Regions from separate parts of the Homo sapiens genome. Here regions 2, 3 and 4 are each linked to region 1. Evidence: fine-mapped expression QTL. A gene starts in region 1. Each other region holds a variant in brackets. All regions are shown on one strand. Distances are between the middles of the regions.

Region 1 (5,000 bases):
ATCAAACTCATATTCTCTAGCTCAACAGATTGCAAACAATATCCCAATACTTTGAGGAAGGCATTCAAAGGCCATTGTGTATGCTGGTGTTTGTGCCTTACATGTCTACATGCAAACAGACAAGAGACAGCAGTTGGCTGAAACAGCACAAATCTTGCAACTAACAAGAAACCCAAGGAAGTCATGTATTAGCTAGCAACAAGTGCTCTACATACGTACTCAGAGATCAACAATATCTAGCTAAAGCTGGTATTGAATTCTGCTTTCTCAACAACTCTATCATCAACATACTGATAAGCAAAGAAAAGTCACCATAGGATAGGAAGTCAGCAGATGTTGGAGATATACTGGCAGAGTGTGGCATGATGAGCACATCAGATTACATACCAAACTTAGAAAAAGATGTTTGCTTGCATCCAACCTTTTTATTACAGTAAGACTTGGCTCTTATCTCTAAAACCTGATTTCTTTACCTCTCGTCAGCAATACTGAAAGCCAGGCTCCACATAAAGCATCAAGACAGTCCCCAAAAAGGTTCATGTATTACAGCACGCCTGTTAACTCTGCAGTCAGAGTCACCAATTCTGAACTCTACTGGTCAGGGCAGATGGACAGTGGGCAACAGAAAGATTCCTAAGCAGTTACTGAATGGCAATAAAAATAAAGTAAAAATAAAACTGCATAACTATCAACCTTAAAGAAATGACAAGACATTCCACAAAGACACAGCAATCAAAAATAGAAAAAGGATATGAAGTCCTTAAGACTAATGGAGCCACAAACAATAGCAGAATTCATCAACCAGGGCTACATGGATCAACCAGCAGAGTGCATATGTTCTCAAAGTGCCCAGATAACTCTCTACCTTCTCAGCAACAAGTATAGAGGCAGGTAATAGTACTGACAGGAGCAGCATCTTCCATTTCAAAGTGAACAACTTGTATATAAGAAAAACACATCCCATTTGGGGCACATCCCAGAAACTCCCAGGAACCTAGGACTTAAAGAAGAGGAAGATTAAAAAAAGAATGGCAGAAGTATTCTTTTATTAATGAATTGTTCTTATTAAAGAAAATTAATAAGCTGCTTCTCCTAGGATCTTCTAGTTAGGATTTTTGAATGCTTAAACTGTAGTTTCTGGACTAAAACAGTGAATGCTTAATGTGGACAATCGCATAACTGAAGGGATGCATGTGACTGTGAGGGGGTGACCTGGGTGGTGGGAAAAGTTGGCAAGGTGTACAAACTGCTAAACAGGACAAAAGGGAAAATTCTGTTCATATATCAGAAATATCGGAGCAGAACTTAGCTTTGAATCTCACTAATTCAGATGGCCTTTTGAACTTATCAGATAAAGGGCTTCAGTAGTGGAAAAAACCGTAAATCAGAGCATCCTGACTGCTAACTGCCAGAGAACTGACTGGGCATGGGGGTGGGGATGCAAACACCTCTGCAGTCAGCTGGGCTAACTGGACACCAATAGGGATGGGGCATGAGGAAAGCCCTACCTTACAGAGAACCTTGGCCATCTCAAAGGTGCCCACAGTATCCATATTGGCAGCAATGATGGGAACCCCAGAGTATGTCTGCTTTGAGTTCCGAAATGAAAAGGATCTTGTGAGATCCACCTGCAGATATGAACAGGAAATTGACCATTTCATTAATCCAAAAAACGTACCATATTAGGACAAGGACAGGCATCTTTCTTGGTTGTGGCCCACCGGGAGCGTGGGGTCAAGAAACAGCAAGTAGAGAAGCTTGCTCACCTCACTTCGAGACTTAAGGGTACTGCGTTTGGGCCTCAAAAGGACATCCTTGAAGTCCAGTTTCACATCGTTGTCAATATGAGGCATGGCGCTTAGCCTCGGGGTAGCGATGAATCTGAGGGCTGGAAGGCAGGAAGTCATAAGGACCAATCTTCCCCTGGGCTTTAACGCCCTGTTACGGCTGGTGGCCTCTCTTCGCTTAAGTTGTGGAAGGTCGGGCAAAGGCCGAAGTGTGGTCCCTGAAGCCTGTCACCTCGACCCATCCCGTGGCTGCGATTACCCTAGGGCTCCATCCCAGGTACTGTTTGTTGGGGAGGAGAGCTGGGAAAGGGTTGTGAGAGACCCTGACGGTGCATTCCTTACCCCGCTACACTTCCTTCTTCTACCCCTGCAAAGAGCAATGGGGCAAGAGGCTGATTTAGGGGAACGAAGGAATGTTGGCGACGGGGGGCGGGGAGGGTTCATAACTAGTTTCCGGAATAGAGGTACTCACTTCCTGTTGCCTTGGTCCAGGCGGCAGTTGACCAAAGACCACCTTGCTTAGCAACTAACCTCGTGCAATCCCGCTAAGCCTTCTGGGCCACGCCAACAGGTTCCTCTAGTTGCCGGCGAGAACTACTAGCCGACGAATTCCAGCTTCGGCGGCGGCAGGGCGAGGCCTTCTGGATAACAGAGTTCACGCACTGAGGTTGCTGTTGGATCCGAGGGGGTTAGACTACAACTCCCAGGGGGAAACGGGCGGGACCGCCTCCTGGCACGATGGGAGATGTAGTTCGTTCTGCCCCCACTTTTCGCTAGCCCGGGCTCGCCAGGGACTCTCAGAATCGCAGAGTCGTCATCTCTGCTGTTGCTAAACTGGATGCCTCATTCCAATTTACGACGTCACTGAACCGAAACGCGGGAGCAACCCTGAGCCTTTCCGGAACCCAGTGGGGGGGGGGGGGGGGGTGGAGCCAGACAGTGACCCGGAAGTAGAAGTGGCCCTTGCAGGCAAGAGTGCTGGAGGGCGGCAGCGGCGACCGGAGCGGTAGGAGCAGCAATTTATCCGTGTGCAGCCCCAAACTGGAAAGAAGATGCTAATTAAAGTGAAGGTGGGAGCACCTCCAGCCTTGCCAAGACGCAGTAGTACTGGGCTGGCAGCAGTGCCTTACGGGAGACGTGGGGAAGGAAAACCACGCCTTTCCCTAGCCTGGAGGACGCTGACTGCCTCAGGGCTCCGCGCGAGGGGTGGTGGGAAATAGGGGGACCCAGAAGGGCTTTGAGAGCGGGGCCCAGGTCCCACCTGACGACCCTGGGGTATTTTGCCATGCCTGCTTTTTTGCCAGGACTGTGCTATCACCCAGAATGGGGTCGCTTTTGTCGGGTCTCACTGTATTCGAACCCCCGCAGTCATAGAGAAGGCCTAGCAGCGGCTTGACTCCCCCGTCTCTCAGATTCTTGGAGTAAGCGCTGCTCTCCATTCTTCATTCCCAGGGTACCTGCTTCTCCCAGTCCCTAACGTAGGTCGCCTCCGAGCACAGCCCTAAAATCGGGGCCTCCCAAGGGCTAGACTATGAGCCTTTACTGGTGGTTGCCAAGGTGTGGTATCTCACCCGTCCTACAGGAACCAAAGCGGGGAGTGTGTTCAGTCAGTACCTGCCTTTCTGAGCCTGGCATCCTGGACCAGCCTCACTTCCTTGGCTGAGGCAGGTTAGTTACCGCTGCCCTAGTTCTTGCTACTAGCCATGGTTTCCTTCATCTGCATCTCTCAACTCCCGTGGTGGTTCTTCACCAATTTCCAGCCCTCGTTAGTCCTATCTGCTGTTTCCTCTTTTGTGCCTTCAGACAGACAGAGACCCCCCCCCCCACGCCCCCCTCAAAAAAACAAAACTGCTGACAAGTGAAGTCTAATGCTAGTTTGGCCTTTTTGTAGCTAAGTAAATCTATCGTTATTTCATCAGCTTCTTAGCATATTTACCGTACATAATAGTCATTCTTAACCTTCTCTTCCCCAGTCCTTCCAAACTACTTCTTAGCTAAGATTTGAGGTCTAGTATTAAAATAGTATGTTAAAGATGATTTTTTTTAACGTTGAGTAGCGGCCTATATAAGAGTCGTAACATCAATTTAATAGGTGAATGGGTCACTGGCGCCATTAAAAAGAGAAAATAGGCTGGGCGCGGTGGCTCACGCCTGTAATCCCAGCACTTTGGAAGGCCGAGGCAGGCCGATCGCTTGAGCCCAGGAGTTGGAGACCATCCTGGGCAACATGGCGAAACCCTGCCTGTACAATAAATTCAAAAAATTAGCCAAGGGTCTGGGCGCATGCCTGTAGGCCCAGCTATTCGGGAGGCCGAGATGGGAGGATTGATTGATCCTGGGATGTCGAAGCCGCGGTGAGCAGTGATGGCACCACTGCACTCCAGACCCTGCCTGAAAAAAAAGGCCGGGCCCAGTGGCTCACGCCTGTAATCCCAGCACTTTGGGAGGCCGAGGTGGGTGGATCACCTAAGGTGAGGAGTTCAAGACCAGCCTGGCCAACATGGTGAAACCCCGCCTCTACTAACAATACAAAAACTAGCCGGGCGTGGTGGTGGGCGCCTATAATCCCAGCTACTCGGAGGCTAAGGCAGGAGAATCCCTTGAACCTGGGAGGCGGAGATTGCAGTGAGCTGAGATGGCGCCATTGCACTCCAGCCTGGGCGACAAGAGTGAAACTCCATCTCCCCCTGCAAAAAAAAAAAAGAAAGAGAGAGGGGGAGAAAATAGGAAATAATATAGTGCTAGGTAAGGATATTGTTTTATGATTTTTTTTTTTTTTTTTTTTGAGACAGAGTCTCGCTCTGTCGCCCAGGCTGGAGTGCAGTGGCGCCATCTCGGCTCACTGCAAGCTTCGCCTCCCGGGTTCATGCCATTCTCCTGCCTCAGCCTCCCGAGTAGCTGGGACTACAGGCGCCTGCCACCACGCCCAGCTAATTTTTTTGTATTTTTAGTAGAGACAGGGTTTCACCATGTTAGCCAGGATGGTCTCGATCTCCTGACCTCGTGATCCGCCCGCCTCTGCCTCCCAAAGTGCTGGGATTACAGGTGTGAGCCACCCTCCCCCGTGCCTGGCCTTTTTTTTTTTTTTTTTTTTTTTTTTTGAGACAGAGTCTCACTCTGTTGCCAGGCCTGAAATTTTTTATTTTATTTTATATGTATATTACACAGGGGGTGTTACTAGTTCATACTAATTTTTAGAATGGATCACTGTCA
Region 2 (5,000 bases), 23 kb before region 1:
CAAGAGACTAGCAGTGGTAAGCTGGGCCCCCCACTCCCCACCATGCCCCTGCTTATCTCCCCCACCTGATTAACACAGTCCAGAGTGTCAGTGCTGGGCCGGGCCGGAGAGCCAAGCCATGTAACCCCGCGGCTTCTTAAACGGGTTTGTCAGCTGAACCACCACGTGGATGTTAGTTTATTTTTACCATTCTATATAACTCTCTATTTGCCTACATTTTACTTATTTATAATGGTTTATTTTATTTATAATGGTTAATATACAAGGGAGGTTCAAAATTCAAAAGCTGGAAGAGTATTCAGAGAAAGAATTCATATTCACTATTCTTACTTGCTTTTTAACTTACATATCCTGGAGATAATTAACTGAAGGACCATTTTAAAGTCATTTTTATAAGTAATACATGCTTGGAAGGAAAAAAAAAGTATAGAATTGAACAACACAAAATGTAAAGCTTCCCTATTCTCTCTCAGGAGGTATTTGGGTTTTTTTTCAAAAATATTTTTAAAGTAAATTTCTAGGTTCTACTCCAAACCTGATACATTAGACTTTCCCAGGATAGATGCTAACAATGTATATTTTTGAAAGTTCTTCTGGTGATTCTGACGATCAGCCGGATTTTTTGACCCACTCCAAAGGGTGGCCAGAGAGATGGAGTGACCTCCTCTGGGGCACAGAGTGGTAGGTCAGTGACAGAGCAAGTCCAGTCCTTTTAAGCACATACTCTTGCTTTCAACGAGTTCCTTCCTGTCTGTTCCATTGCTCACTGTGAGTTATATATACAGCATAGAAAAAAATCAGGGCTCAGATAGGTTCAAAGAAGAAAATAGCCCTTATGACCCTGCCTTAATATATAATTACTGTTAATATAACCAACGGGTCTCTTTTCTGTGTCCACATACATGTGTTTCTGCAGAAATTAGAACTACCATACACTCTGTTCTCAAACAAACCCCCACCCCTTCTTACCGTGATACCCCAGCCCCAGGCCACCAGGCCTGCCCTGCCAGCTACCTTCTGTCCAGCCTCTCCCTTACCCCAGGTCAGAGAGTCCTCCCTAGCCTACATTCCTCCCCTGGCCTCTTCCCAGTGCCCTCCCTCTCACTCAGATATGTGAACACAGCCCCATGAGCTGTGCAACCCGGTGATGCCTGTGATGCTGAAACAGCCTGTCCCAGACGCTGGCAGATCTGAGCTCTGGCCCCCAACTCTGGGAAGTGGTGGGGTGGACATCAGGCAGGGGGCTCAGGGCCAGCCAGACTGGGGCTTGATCCCAGCCTGATCACTTCTCAGATGTATGCTCTTGGGCAAGCACCTCGAACTTTTAGGCTTTGGTGGTTTGGATGTAATTTGGGGTAATAGATACCATATATGGTGATTGGGAGGATTAAATGAGAAATTCTGTATCTGAAGGGACCAGCAGCATGCCGGGAGTGTAGCAGCTACTCAAAAAGTCTGAGCTCCTTTCATTCTCCCTGCACCACCTGTCTTGTGAGATCCTGGCATGAACTTCACCTTGCTGTTTCCCCGTCTGTAAAGGAGTGTGTAGTGTTATGTCTTGTCTAAGATTCTTTCCGGTTGGATGGTACTCACTTACCACTCTGTCCTCTCTTGCCAGGCCTCTTCCTGTCAGCCTATCTCTTCTAGACAGCCTCCTGAGTATGATAAGGGCAGACTCTATTTCCCACCAGCTCCCCCCAGTAGAAAGGGCAGCAGGCTGCAGAGCTGAGGGTTGTTCCGCATCTCTCTGGAATGGTGGTGGCGGTGGTGTCCTCGCTCTCCCAGCCAGCAGGCAGGGCCACTGTGGACTCTGGGTTGGTTATGATAAAGGATGGGGCGTCCTGTCCTCTGGGGGTCACAGATGGTGGACATCCAGTGTCAGCCAGCCATGAAAGAGTATGTCAGGGACTTGGTTATCAGGCAGGCTGGTCCGCACATCTGTACCCTGCC[C/G]CCATCCTCCAGCAGAGCAGCCTGGGCTGAGGAAAGCAGATTGAGAGCCAAATGGAGCCGCTCTCTCTTTGTTTTCCATACCTGTGTTGCACTGGCTGTCAACTGACCCCCAAGTGTTTGGGTCAGGGCTGATGACCTTGTTCCAGAGGCCACCAGGCAGTGGGACCGGGCCTGAGTGGGTGGGGCTGGGGCCCTGTGTGGACCTTACCCAGGGTCTGAAGAGCCCTCTCCGCCTTCTCAGATCTCTTGCCTCTGTCCCGCCTCACTCTCTAGGCATCTTCTGCTGCGGCCCCTGCTCTGTGGAGTCCATCAAGAATGGCCTGGTCTACATGAAGTACGACACGCCTTTCATTTTTGCTGAGGTGAGGGCTGGGCTCCAGGTGCCTTCTTGGGCTTCAGTCATGGGTTCTCTGGTCCCAACTTCACCGCTGACTGACCAGCTCTGCGACCCGGGGCAAGTCACTCATTATACAAGTCAGTTTCCTCACCTGTAAAAGGGGATAATCAAGGCTGCCTTGCTTCCTATACTCGGGATCAGAAGAGATAACGGGTATGAAACTGCTTCACTAGTCGTAAAGTCAGCCATTGAGTGTGAGGGATTACTGATATTGCCAAAGTGCTCTGCCAGGAGCCTCCCAGACCAGCTTCTTCCCTGCACTCTGGCCTCGTCTGGCTCGTCTTGGAAAGTCTCCCCTTGGGCTCTGCCAGGAAGCTCCCACCCTTGGGACCAAGCCCTGTCCCATAGCTCCTGGGATCAGGGGAAGGAGGCCGGGAGTCAGGCCACCCTCAGACCCTCTGGCTCACTCATTCCTGCTCACCCCCACCCCCCACAGGTGAATAGTGACAAGGTGTACTGGCAGCGGCAGGATGATGGCAGCTTCAAGATTGTTTATGTGGAGGAGAAGGCCATCGGCACACTCATTGTCACAAAGGCCATCAGCTCCAACATGCGGGAGGACATCACCTACCTCTATAAGCACCCAGAAGGTACCATTCCCCCAACCCAGCCAGCTCTGGGCCCCACAACAAGTGTTCCTGCCAAGTGCTTGGCCACCCACGTGGGAATTGGAACCTCACCCTTGACCCTCAACCCCCAGGCTCAGACGCAGAGCGGAAGGCAGTAGAGACAGCAGCAGCCCACGGCAGCAAACCCAATGTGTATGCCAACCGGGGCTCAGCGGAGGATGTGGCCATGCAGGTGGAGGCACAGGACGCGGTGATGGGGCAGGATCTGATGGTCTCTGTGATGCTGATCAATCACAGCAGCAGCCGCCGCACAGTGAAACTGCACCTCTACCTCTCAGTCACTTTCTATACTGGTGTCAGTGGTACCATCTTCAAGGAGACCAAGAAGGAAGTGGAGCTGGCACCAGGGGCCTGTAAGTGCTCCTTACCCAGCCCTGCCCCCTGGATGGCTGGGCACCTCAGGGCTGTGGACATGGAGACCCCAGGAGCAGTGGGGAGTCCCTGGGGGAAGCCTCATGTAGGGAAGCAGGCCTCAGTGACGCCATGCCTCTTCTCCACAGCGGACCGTGTGACCATGCCAGTGGCCTACAAGGAATACCGGCCCCATCTTGTGGACCAGGGGGCCATGCTGCTCAATGTCTCAGGCCACGTCAAGGAGAGCGGGCAGGTGCTGGCCAAGCAGCACACCTTCCGTCTGCGCACCCCAGACCTCTCCCTCACGGTGAATGCAGTTTGCTGGGGCATGAGGGGTGGTCAGAGAGTGAAGGCCAGGGGATAAGGACATCAGAGGTGGGCGCTAAGCCAGCAGCAGGCTGGCCTGATGAGCCTTTGTAGGAGAAGGTCAAGGACCGGCTCTGGGGCCTCAGTTTCCTCATCTGTAGCATGGGATCTTATGTCTCTGGTTCTGTGACAGCCTTTATTGAGGAATAGGTTGGAGTTTCTTCTCTGACTTCTGGGGAATCTTCTCTCAGGAGGATAAATGTGGGACTCGGGGAGGTTTTGCTTCTAAGCAGCTTCCCCTCTCTGGTGCAGTGTACGGTCCCCGTGTGTTTGGCCAGGGTCTCTGACGTGGGGGATGGGCCTCTTTTTCTCTCAGTTACTGGGAGCAGCAGTGGTTGGCCAGGAGTGTGAAGTACAGATTGTCTTCAAGAACCCCCTTCCCGTCACCCTCACCAATGTCGTCTTCCGGCTCGAAGGCTCTGGGTTACAGAGGCCCAAGATCCTCAACGTTGGGTGAGTCTGGCCTCTCCCCCTACCCCTGCTTCCACTCTGGCCTTCCCCACAGGCTGCCCTGGCTCCCAGCTTTGCTCCCTCTCTGTCTGGACAAGTATGTTCTGTCAGGACCCAACCAAGCAGGTTGGGGCCAGCTAGCAATACCTCCCGGCCCAGCTCAGTCCCACCAGCCTTTAGGGAGACCTCTTGGGCACCTGGTGCTATGCCATGTCCTTGCCCTGCCTCACTATCTAATTAGGGAGCAGAAGGCCCACATAGGAATCATTAGTAACTCATTGCTAATATTTGCCCAGCACTGAAGAATTGACCAGGCCCTTTCAGGAATATTATCTCCTTTGGACACAAAAACTCTAATTTAAGTACATTAGAAGGCCAGGTGTGGTGGCTCACACCTGTAATCCCAGCACTTTGGCAGGCCAAGGTGAGTGGATCACTTGAGCCCAGGAGTTGGAGACCAGCCTGGGCAACATGATGAAACCCTGTTTCTACAAAAAATTTTTAAAAAATTAACCAGGTTTGGTGCTGTGCGCCTGTTGTCCCAGCTACTTGGGAGTCTAAGGTGGGAGGATCACCTGAGCCTGGAGAGGTTGAGGCTGAAGTGAGCCATGTTTGTGCCACTGCACTCCAGCCTGGGCGACAGAGTGAGACCCCGTGTGTCTCTCTCTCTCTCTGTCACACACACACACAGACACACACACACACACAGAGACACACACACACAAGCGAAGTTTTGGAATCCTAATGATACGGGTTCAGCTCTAGCACTTACTGGCTATATGCCCTTGGGCAAGCGACTTCTCTCCTTCAAGCCTCAGTGTTCTCACCTGTAAAGCAGGGATAGCAATAGCCCC
Region 3 (5,455 bases), 170 kb after region 1:
CCCATTACACCCCCAAAAGCTGGACAGACTTTGTGTTGGTTTCTGTCCTTTTGGTTCTTTCTCCAGGAAGCTCAGCCCTGACCCTGGGCATAACACCCATCTTGGCTTGGGGACTTATCAGTCCCCTTCCCTCGGCAGTTCTCTGTTTTTTTCTCCTGCTCCTCTCAGAACCCCAAGTCTATCCCTGTGGAATGTTTCTCATTTTTCTCCACTGTGGCCAAGCTCTGAGGGTTTGTGGGAAGAGAGCAGATTGTGGAGGCAGTGAATGGGGAAGATAGCAGAGACTCGAGGCAGGCGATGATTTTGTTTTTTTATTCTATACAAGAGGGGAGAGAGTCCCTGGGGATAGAGGGACAGAGATCCACCCTCCTGGGGGAGGAGATAAGCCCCCACCCAGAAGCTCTCTGCAGAGAGAGGTATCGAGGCAGGCACTGACAGCCTCCGTCTCTCCAGGTGGCTCCCTCTGTTCTAGTCCCTGCCTCCAGCTCCCCCATGCCTGGTCCTGCCGTCTTGCCCCTGTAGGACAGGGGCTGGCAGGGGGCCCTGGGGACTGGGGGTGGATAGGGGTCTGAGTCCTTGCGAGGCACATGTCGAGGGCTGAGGAGGGTGTTGTGGCAGTTGTCAGTCTGTTCCTGGCTCACTGGTTCCTGCTGGGGACAAATCCAGGGAGCCCTGTTTCCTGGGCAGGGACAGCCAGCCACCTGGTGTTGGGGCTTCGGGGGGTGTCATGTTGGACAGATAGGTGGGAAGGGGGGACCTGCCCTCTCACCACCAGCACCTGTGGGGTCAGGAGGCCGTCTTCTATCAGGTTCCAGCTTGTCACAGGACTGTGCCCGCCGTGTCCTCTTGGGCTTCAGGGGGGCAGTCCGCCGGCCTGGATCAGGGGGCCCTGAAATAACAATCAAGGCAGGCCTAACACAGGAGTGGGGCTCATGCTGGGATGCTCATCCAGGCTGTGACTCCTGGTTGTCACTCATTCCATGCTCTGGAAGAGGACCTGATGTGGACAGCAAAGTCCTAGAGGTGCCCTGAGCCCCCCACTCAGCCAGGGTGGCAGACCTTGGACTTCGGGCTCCTCTTGGTCTTGCTGTGAGCTCAGCCTCAGCCGGGGTTTGTTGACTCCTGGAGCTGCATCTCCAGCCTCAGCCTCCTCCCTGACCCCTGGCTCCTGGGGAGGCTGGCGGCCCCTGGGCACAGCCACTGGCTTGGGAGGCCATGGAGCTAGAGCGGGGTCCTGTAGCTGGCAGAGGAAGGAAGATGCTGGGTCAGTTAGTCCCTTTGCCTCATCAAAGTGCCTCCCCCACCCATCTTGCCAGCTCTCACCTTGGCATTCCTAGCTGGAAGTGTCCTCTCTGGGAAGAGGGTCCCCTCCTTCTCCTCTTCCCCATCTTGGGAGGCTGGGCTGGGACTCTGGCAGCTGTGGTTGGGGGCACTCTCTTCAGCTGGGGATGAGAGAGAGGAGAAGCTGCAGGAAAAGGCATTCTTGCATAGCTCCTGTCCCTGTCTCCTCTCTCCACTGAAGCCCTGGAGGCCAGGACTTTCTCCCTCCAAGCCCACTTGCTCCTATGTCTCTGCCTTTCATGTGCCTTTTTTTTTTCTTTTCTTTCTTTCTTTCTTTTTTTTTTTTTGGAGATGGAGTTTTGCTCTGTCACCCAGGCTGGAGTACAGTGGTGCAATCTTGGCTCACTGCAACCTCCACCTCTCGGGTTTGAGCGATTCTCCTGTCTCAGCCTCCCGAACAACTGGGACTACAGGTGCGTGCCACCACGCCCAGCTAATTTTTGTATTTTTAGTAGAGACAGGGTTTCACCGTGTTGGCCAGGATTGTCTCGATCTCTTGACCTAGTGATCCACCTACCTCGGTCTCCCAAAGTGTTGGGATTACAGGCATGAGCCACCGCACCCGGTCTTTCATATGCCTTTCTACATCCACGCTCCTTAGCCCTTGTTTCCCAGGATCATCCTGAGGCCATCACCTCTGGAGGGGACTCTGGCCTAGCTGTCCCTCTTGCAGAGCAGTGCCCAACCCCTTTCCTGCTGGGGCAGGGCCCAGGGCCTGCTGGGTCCACAGGCATGCTGCCCATCCAGGCTGCAGTGCCCTGGGGGCTCTGCCAAGGCTGCAGCCTGGCATTCCCAGAACTCTGTCTGAAAGTCTGATTTAGATGGAGGGGTGCCCTGGCACACTCATCCTCCGCCCCAGTGGCCTTTAAGCAACATGAGCCTGTGGCTCTGACACTGGAAAGTGTTGTCTGCATGTGGATCTGTGAGGTGTGTGTGCAGTGGGGCAACTGACTATTGCGGTTTCCTAAATGAAAGATGGAGCCCTACTTTGGGGCGCTTTAATTAGCCTGTGTATGGGATGGAAAAAATCAGCAAAGATGCCCCCAGTGCTGGGTTGGCCTTGGAGGAGGAGGCAAGGACACAGGCACTCCAAGTCTCAGGCTAGCCTGATTCTGCACTACAGGGGAGAGAGGGGCAGATGCA[G/C]AATGGGTGGGATAGGACAGTGGGGAGCATGTGGCTCAAGCCAGACCAGCCCGCTCAGCTCTTAGCTCTTTCCAGCCCTTACGCCCTAGCCTGGTGGTGGGAGTGAAAGAGGCTGAGGGGGTGTCTCCATCTACAGAGAGATTTTGTCTATGTCAATATTGCTGGAGGGTCATGGTCCAGGCCTTTGGCAACTGCTGGACTGAGCGAATGCTGAGCTGACCAGCTTTTCTTTAGTGGCTCCCTAAGCGGAAGGTGCTCTGAAGCCAGCAGAAAGGAAGTGTCATGCCTGGGATAATCCCCTCCCTTTTACTCCTCCGGTCATGGGGCCAGAAAGTAAATGACTTGTTTAAGGTCGCGGGTGGCTGAGAAGGACTAATACTGCAGGTTTCTGACCTCCGAGGCGAGCTCTTGCCCATGTTTGGGGCACCTTTCTGCGTGAGCTGAGGGTGAGTTGATAAACGACTTCTGGAGGAGGCTGGAATCTGAGGTGGGCCTGGCACAGCTGGTACTTGCTGGCAGTTTGACTTGCCCACCCTCTTCCCAGCAAGGTGCAGAGAGGAGCCTTGTCTACAGAGGCTGCCACTGTGCCAATGGTGACCAGAGGCTGCACCTGCCCTGGAGAATTCGCCAGAGCCATCCACAAAGCATCGCTCCTGTTTGCCAACACTGGAGAAGCCGCTTTTGTTCTGTAGAAGCTTTCTTTGGATTGGGTTGTTTGTCTCTTTTGGATATAGCTTTGTAAATATCCTTAAACATTTTCACTGTGTTGACTTCTCACTGCCCCACCTTGGCCATAAATTCCCCAGCACAGGGGCCATGGGCTTCTGTTTCTTTGGACACACCCTGGGCTTTCAGTACTGCTGCCTGAAAAGAGGCTTTCCATACCTATGTGCCATGTGGCCTCTGCTCTGCGCATGGCGCTGAAGCTTGGTTTGGTGCTTTGGGGCGGTGGTGGGGGCTTCCAGGATCCAGGCCCTGGAGTAGAGAGAGGGGATGAGAAAGAGAGGAGAAAGGGAAAAGGTAAATTTGACCCCTGAGAGAGGGGTCCAAAAGGGCTTTGAATGTGACTGTTCTTACCTGCGTCGTCTGAAGAGCGCCGTTTCTGCCAGGCCTGGGTGCTGCCCTCCTGGTCTGGGCCTGGGCCCTGAAAGAACAGTGGGTCAGGTTGTAAGAAAGTCTCCTCTGTGGCAGGACTGCAGCTGACAAAGGGCTTCTGCTCTAGCATCTCCATGTCATTCTCATGTCATTAGTCCCTAGACACTTAAAACTGTTTCCCAAAGAGTGGCACCCATACCTCCCCAGGGGCACAAGAAATGGCTTACACAAATGAGTATACTTCCATCTTTATAGTTACATATGTATTTTACATGTAGTAGAAAAAAACACGACTCATTCAAAAAGCCTGCGATTTTAAAGATAATGTCTAGGTCTAGCCTAAGTTAAAAAAAGGTGAGTTAATTTAAATAAAAATACTATGTAAGTAATAATTCAGGTAAAAATCAGTCGCAAAGGTTATAATCAAGTCACCATTGTTTGGGAAACAGAGCTCTAGAGGTAAGTATTTTTATAACCCCTCATTTTACAGTAAAGAAGGAGAGGTTTCAGGAGGTGAAGTGACCAGTCCAGGGCTCCACGGCAAGTGTGTGGTGGGGGCTGAAGAGCAGCTAACATCTTCTAATGCCAAAGCATCTGCTTTCTCTACTGAACCACCAGGGATGAGGGAGTGGGAAGGAGAGGGTGGTGGACAGATACCCTCAGGACCCACAGTTTGTTGTCCCAGGCTCCACTCACCTCTCGTTTCCCATCGAAGCTCCAACCCTTGGCTCTTTCCAACCCGGGAAGGGCAACACCGTGAACCCTTGGCTGCTGTGCTGTCCCAGGGGCTGGGCCCCCCTCCCCTGGCTCTGACCCCTCAGTGCCCTAGAACAAGGTCTCTTATTTATTAGCAGTTCCCAGTCGAAGGGGGCTCCCCAGGCTGTGAGGGAGTTGTCAGGAGGACCCCTGCCTCACTGAGTCCCTAGCCACGGGGAAGCCCTGCAGAGACCCTCTGAAGAGTCCTTCCAACGCCTGCATTCGCATATAGCACTCCCAGCATGCTCTTGGCCACTGGGTCTTAGTCCACTCTCAAGGAGAGGAGAATTGAAATGACCAATGTTCCCAAGAACCCTGGGTCCTAGCATTCTCCCATTAAGCTTGGGGTGGGGTAGGAGACTGGGTTAAGTGTGGGGCAGGAAAAGGGGAAGACACAGCACCCCCTGCCTCACTTACCATCTTCCGGCGGAAGGAAGGTCCCCGGCCCCCACCAAATCCAGGGAGGAGGCTGCTCTCCTCCTCTGGGCTCCAGCAGGGAGAGGAGTTATTGCCGAGGCTTGGGGGGTCTGGGCTAGGGGGGCTCTCCTGAGTCGGGGGAGGGGGTGGGGGTGGAGGGAGGAGGAGTCCAGTGGTAGGGGACCCCGGCCCCCTGTCCCCCTTGAAGCTCCGGGGCCGGCGAAAGTGAAACAGGCCCCGGCGCCTCTTCTTCTGGAGTGGAGGCAGCGGTGCCTCCGAGAGTCCTGGCCGCACGGTCCTCAGAGTCCGGGGGTAGCTGGGGAGAATCGGGGTAAGTTAGCAACAAATGCCAGATGCAAGCTCAATCCTGGGTCTGATAAACCTGCTTTCCTCTCATCTGGTCTCCCCTGCTGCACTGCAGCCCTTTCCACTTAGTTCTCAGGGAGATGATGCCCTTGCCTTTCCTGTCCCGTTGTAATCCTCCAGCAGCCTTTCCCGCAGACTGATGTTTCTTCCCAGGCACCTCCCCTGCAACTCCTCTCAGCTTCTCCAAGTGACCTGGCTCCTCCTGGACAGACCCTGGGCAGTCTGCAGGACAGTGACAGGGAACACTACCCCCCGGGCCTCTCACCACTAATGGGTATCCTGTCCCAGGGCTGCCCCCCACCTCCCTCTCATCCACACCTGCTCTCCAACCCCACTG
Region 4 (5,455 bases), 230 kb before region 1:
CCATGTGGCTATTTGGAGGCATGGCATTTCAAGCAGGGGAATAGCAAAAAGGCCCTGGGCAGAAGCAAGTTTGTCACGCTATACTGAGAAGCCAGTGTGACTTGGGCAGGACAGGCAGGAGGTGAGGTCATATAGACAAGTGAGGACAAAATCACTGGGGGTCTCAAGGGTCCCCTGAGATCTTATAAGATCTTTGGCTTTTATTCTGAAACCAGAATCCATTGGAAGACTTTGAGCAGAGGAGTGGCATGATTGATTTAAGTTTTTATAGGGATCGCTCCGTCTACCAAGTGAACAATAAATTCTAAGGGAGCAAGAGTTAGGGCAGAAAAACCAGTAAGGAGGCCCTTATGATGATCCAGACAAAGATGCCATTAACTTGTACCAGATGGTAGCTGTAGTGAACATGGTGAGATACCTAATTATGGGTTTATTGCATGTATGGATTTCTTTTAGAGATAAATCCAACCATTCCTGCTCATGGATCAGGGGGAGTTAATGATGACTCCAAGTTTTTTATTTTGACCTGAGCAAATGGGAAAACTACACTGCCATTTGCTGAGACTGGGAGAACCAGCAAAGGAACAAGTTTGGGGCCATGGAAATCAAGAGAATGGTATGGGGTGTGTTAAGTTTAGATGGCTATTAGTCATCCACATACAAACATTGGGTAGGTAGTTTGATATTTAAGCCTAGAATTCAGGAAAAATATTCAGGCTGGAGTCAGAAACTTGGGATTCATTAGACACTATTCAAAAACCTGAGATTCATACTAAGGAGTGAGCCTACATGGAGAAGAGGCCCAAAGACAAAGATTGCAGTATGCCAATGTTTAGAGATCAGGTGACAGTCAAAGCCAGCCAAGGGGACTGAGCTGTGGCTAATGAGGTAAGAGGAGGACAAATCATGTCCTGGAAACCAGTGAAGAAAGTGTTTCCACTGAAACAAATGTTGCAGAGAGGCAAAGTATGTGGTGATCTGAGATCAATGAATTTAGCAACATAGAGGTCACTGACAAGAGCTGTTTCAACAGAATGGATGAGAGGCACTAAGCCATGCTACCTCTGTAGATGGAACCTAGCTTCTCTTCAGAGATTTTATTTCCCCTCAAAGTTCTTCAGTCTCAAAAAAGTGAAGTCCCCATGCTGTGTAACAGCATTTCATCTAAGAATCAATACTCTGGCCTTTGCCTGGATGTGGAGTCCTGTGAACAGTCCATAAAAGGTCCTGGTTGTAACCTTCATCCCCACAATCCACACCAGGCACCCTGAACCTCTCAACTCCACCTTCAAGCCACTAGTTACATCCTCAACTTCAGTGCCCCAGGGATCCTACACAGATCTAACCTGGATACTGAGCCCAGGGCTGTCTCTTAATTATTTAGAGTCTAAGCCTTGGGGACAACCTCTGAGTCCTCTCTCTTCCTCTGTTGTCATGGCCACCCCCTTATCCTCTCCTGTCATCTTTCTTTCTTCTCCATCATCTCCTTCTCTATCTAATCAAGTATTCAATGAGATACCTCAGTGACGTAGTGACCTTCTGTCTAAACTCAGCAAAAATTTCATGCTGGTTGTGGTCCAGCCTCCTGTAGCTGGGTCTGGCCTATGTTGATCCATGGAGGAGAAGATGGACTAGCCTACATCTCCCTCCCTAGGAACCCCTCAGGTTGCCAACTGCTGAATGGTATAACGAAATGTGAGCTGAGTGGGTAGAAGACGCATGAACGCAAAGATAAAGCCAGCTCTGGTGATCACTGCCTCAATCCCCCAGGGCCACAGACAACAGACTTTATCCTGTGTCTTCATGACACACACACGCATCCACATGCACATGTGCCTGAGGATTTCCAAGCTGCCTGATCTCCACATTTACTACCATGAGTGCCTGATTTAATAGGTCCTAGTGACAACAACTTTATTATATCAGAGTGCAGGGAGAAAATCAGGCCCAGCCCTCATCATCTCTGCTGTGCGGAGGGGTGTGAGAAGTAGCATTCTGCCAGCACAGAGCTATCCAGCACCTGGGAGGCCCTGTAATTGAGTGTCTACCATGAGAAAGGAGCTGGAGAAAGCTGACCTTCCCTGCAAGCACCTGCTCATATCTCCCTGGGTCCCTTCCCCAGAGCCCAGCCTCCCACTACCCCCAACTCATGTGGGGCTGAGTAGACTGTAGGGAAAGGGCCACAGCCACAGTGGAGATGGAGAAATACATTCTCCATAGATTAATTTCAGAAGGGCCTGTGCTGGGGCCAGGGGAAAACAGACCCAGGAGAAGCCTCCCAGTGGCCATTTTACAGCACAGAGCCAGACAGTGGCAAGAGACTGCAGCCAGTAGCCCTTCCTCTGAGTGAGTAGGAAATGGAATTGCTGGGCTGGTGAAGCCTCTGGTGGTGCAAGAAGAGCTGCTCATGCTAAACAGTTCCTCTCAGGTCCAGCCTGGCCAAAGACTAACATCATTATCTATCTATCTATCTATCTATCTATCTATCTATCTATTTAGCTTTCTCTCCCCAGCACTGTCAGAGTATGTAAGAGGGCATTTCTCATTCACTGCCCTGGAAACTAAGAGCAGAGAGACCTCAAGGGCACTTGTTCTCCACAGCAGGTCCTGGCCAACAACGGAGGGTACGGAGCTGATGCTGGAGGCTGGCCAGGTCTCTCAGCTCCTACAAAAGGTCCCACTGGGAACAGATGTCTGGTTAGGGGTCAGACTAGGGATGGGGGCATCTAAAAGTCTTAGTGGAAGGGAAAAAGAAGAAGACAAGGTGCAGCCCCTGGAGAAGACCTGGCATCTCCACAGACATCGAGGTTCAGGAATGCTGTTCCTGTGGCCCCAGACCCTGAGGTCAGAGCAGACTATCTTATAAAAAGGAAGGGAGATTTCTAGGATCCTTTATCCAATGTGTCTCCAGAATTAGGATTTTGGTTGGTTGGTCGATTAATTGGTTAGTTGATTGGTTCTACCATACAGTAACAGAAATATGTAAAATGGTTATGTGAATAGCATTTGGCAAGTAACATCTCAGAGCCTGAGAGAAGTCACAAAAATCTATTCCAACAAAATGAAGCAGGGAACATTCACACAGGTGGCATTGGGAAGGGGCAGAGGCACTTGTCACCAGCAAATCCCCCATCCCACTCTGCCTTGGCCCAAGCTGAAGAAGCAGCCAGGATCCTTCTCTGACTTTTTATCCTGCCCCGCAGGGCTGGCCTGATGCCCCAGAGGTTGACTGAGCTCAGCTCCTTTTGTTGTTTCAGGAAGCAGCTGTGAGGAAAACAGTCCCATTTCAAAGTACTTGTGATTGCTGCAGACCCAGGAGGAAG[C/T]CTTTTCTTCCCAAAGGGAAAGCCAGCTGCACTTGCCCCTAAGCCCAGATGTGCAGATGAAAATTTCTCATGTCTTGTTGTCTAAGGTTTGAATGTTTTAACCTCCAAAGTGTCAGATGGACTCTGAGAGCTGCAAAAAGTTTAACTAAAATAGTTCAGTTGCTAAAGGAGAGGCTGAGGAGGATGAGAGAAGTTGACCCACCCATCCCCAGAACCCAGAAGAACGACAGCTTTAAGGAGGTTGGATGGAAAGCTGAACACATTCAGACAGAGCCTGCTCTCCATCAGCCTCCCTGGAGATGAGGGGCTGGCTGCTGCAATGGGAGCTCTGTCCCTATGTACCTCCTCTTCGCAAGGGGTGTAAAGCTCTGCAGGAGGTTTCCATCTCACCTCCTTGAGGATATTGATGGACATCCACCCTCTTAAATCTATACTCTAAAAGGCATGTAATTTAGTGGAACCCTCCCACTCACCTCTCACCTTCTACAGCACAACTCCCAGCTCACTGGAAGGAAAGACATAGCCAGGAGAGAAAGGAAGGAATGTCAACGTTGTTGAAGAGAGGAGGAGTTCCTTAACACCTCAGGGGCTCAGCTGGGTTTCCACAGTGGAGGACAGTGAGTGGGGCTACCCCACCCCTGGTCCAGCAGTAGACACACGACTCAGGCCTGGCCAGGCAGAAAACTCCATACTTGGCCACAATAGTTGGTTCAGAGATGGCACGAGACCCATAACAGTCCAAGAAGAGTCAGTTCTGACATTCTTTATGGAATTAAGAGAAATAGTTACTCTGCTGGAAATAGAAGCCAAGAATTCATTCTCACTCTAAAGGGAGAAAATCTTCCTGAGAATGAAGTCAACCAACAAAAAATAAGAGCTGAGAATTAAAAAGATGTGGATCCTTGATGACATTATGTAAGCACCTGGATCTAGCCATGTATAAAGCCAGTTTGCTTTGCAATATTACCCAACGTATTTTCCCTCTCAGTACTTCCTTTTCCCTCTGCAGTGTAAGGGAACAAATCCGACAAGCCTTAGTTTTGACTCTCAAAAGCAAGTTGTTTTATTCCATATCTAACTAATAGCCTGGAAAGGAGGAAATTCAAGAGCAAGGGTTTTGTTGAGAGAAGACCAAGCATGGAATTTGTTTTATAAATCAGAGGGTAGGAAAGAAACTGGCTATGATGTCAGAGCAGTTGCCCATTACCTAGCTTTCCCTGGGCTTAGGGAAGGAGCTAAAAGATTTGGAGAGAACATAACTAGATTATAAATGCTGCCTGAACTCTCTGAGAAGGAGCCTAGCTAGGGAGGTAAGGAGAGATGCTTGAAAACCTGGAGAGGTAAAAGAGGCATCTAAAAATAACAAGGATTGTACCACAATTCCCAGGCACAACTGAGAGAGTCTACAAGCATCTCAGAGAAGCCCTAAATGCAGCACAGAGCTTGTGTTGGTTTTAAAATGTGCCAACAAATTATTTGACTCTATTCCCTTTAAAAGTTTTACAGCCAAATTTCTCACCCCTTCAACTCAGTGACTCACATCTAACAAATAGATTGTGATAAAAGTAACTGTATGTTACACTGAGATTAGATTAGTCATTAGAGGTATTGAAGCTTTCTCCTCATTCTCACTCTCTTGAATCACTCACTCCAGGGAAGCCAGCTGCCATGTCATAAGGATACTCAAGCAGCCATGTGGAGAGGTCCACATGGTGAGAAACAATCAGCAAGGAATGAAGCCTCCTGCAACAGCATGTGAGCAAGGCTTTTTGAAAGAGGATCCTCCAGCCCCAGTCAAGTATCCAGATGATTGCAGCCCTAGCTGATATCTTGAGTATAACCTCATGAGAGACTGTGAGCCACACCTCACAACCACCGAGCTAAACTGCTACCATATTCCTAACCCACAAGACTGTAAAAGATAATAAATACTATTGTTGTTTCAAACCACTAAGTTTTGAGATAATTTGTTAACAGCAACATATAACTAGTTCACAATAAGGTGCCTGAGCAGTAATGACTGTGAAAAATTACCAAGAGGTGAGCCTGAGGGGACCCTCATCAAGGCCCATGCATCCCATTCTGTTGGCCAGAGGCAAGCCAAGTGTTTCTTCATCATCCAGCAGATGCTG

What was found. PIP is the estimated chance that this variant, and not a neighbour inherited with it, causes the effect. A credible set is the group of variants that fine-mapping cannot tell apart.
Region 2: its variant is the best candidate, but not a certain one, in a credible set for the expression of GMPR2 in whole blood (TOPMed, PIP 0.68).
Region 3: its variant is the best candidate, but not a certain one, in a credible set for the expression of GMPR2 in whole blood (TOPMed, PIP 0.74).
Region 4: its variant is the best candidate, but not a certain one, in a credible set for the expression of GMPR2 in whole blood (INTERVAL, PIP 0.73).

What each region holds. Positions count from the first base shown.
Region 1 is chr14:24,230,107-24,235,106 of GRCh38, reverse strand. It overlaps GMPR2 (guanosine monophosphate reductase 2), which reads right to left and starts at 2,178. Exons shown (of 10, transcript NM_001002002.3): 1 at 2,130-2,178; 2 at 1,767-1,888; 3 at 1,509-1,628. The coding sequence starts at 1,853. NEDD8-MDP1 (NEDD8-MDP1 readthrough) reads left to right here and starts at 2,740. Exons shown (of 7, transcript NM_001199823.3): 1 at 2,740-2,857. The coding sequence starts at 2,840. NEDD8 (NEDD8 ubiquitin like modifier) reads left to right here and starts at 2,740. Exons shown (of 4, transcript NM_006156.3): 1 at 2,740-2,857. The coding sequence starts at 2,840. RefSeq lists enhancers at 2,550-2,844, 2,011-2,876.
Region 2 is chr14:24,253,301-24,258,300 of GRCh38, reverse strand. It overlaps TGM1 (transglutaminase 1), which reads left to right. Exons shown (of 15, transcript NM_000359.3): 9 at 1-16; 10 at 2,224-2,312; 11 at 2,784-2,937; 12 at 3,048-3,329; 13 at 3,477-3,637; 14 at 4,013-4,149. Among named protein-coding and RNA genes, the nearest start is that of TGM1, 7.4 kb to the left of the region's middle. The variant C/G (reference allele first, on the strand shown) is at 1,951.
Region 3 is chr14:24,064,571-24,070,025 of GRCh38, reverse strand. It overlaps CARMIL3 (capping protein regulator and myosin 1 linker 3), which reads right to left. Exons shown (of 40, transcript NM_138360.4): 33 at 4,753-5,068; 34 at 4,276-4,404; 35 at 3,562-3,628; 36 at 3,370-3,459; 37 at 1,324-1,442; 38 at 1,060-1,240; 39 at 779-889; 40 at 297-647. The coding sequence ends at 622. It overlaps LOC105370412 (a long non-coding RNA gene), which reads left to right and starts at 1,837. Exons shown (of 2, transcript XR_943619.2): 1 at 1,837-2,930; 2 at 3,029-3,242. The variant G/C (reference allele first, on the strand shown) is at 2,485.
Region 4 is chr14:24,456,704-24,462,158 of GRCh38, reverse strand. The region is part of intron 2 of LOC101927045 (a long non-coding RNA gene); the gene reads right to left. Among named protein-coding and RNA genes, the nearest start is that of SDR39U1, 17 kb to the right of the region's middle. The variant C/T (reference allele first, on the strand shown) is at 3,324.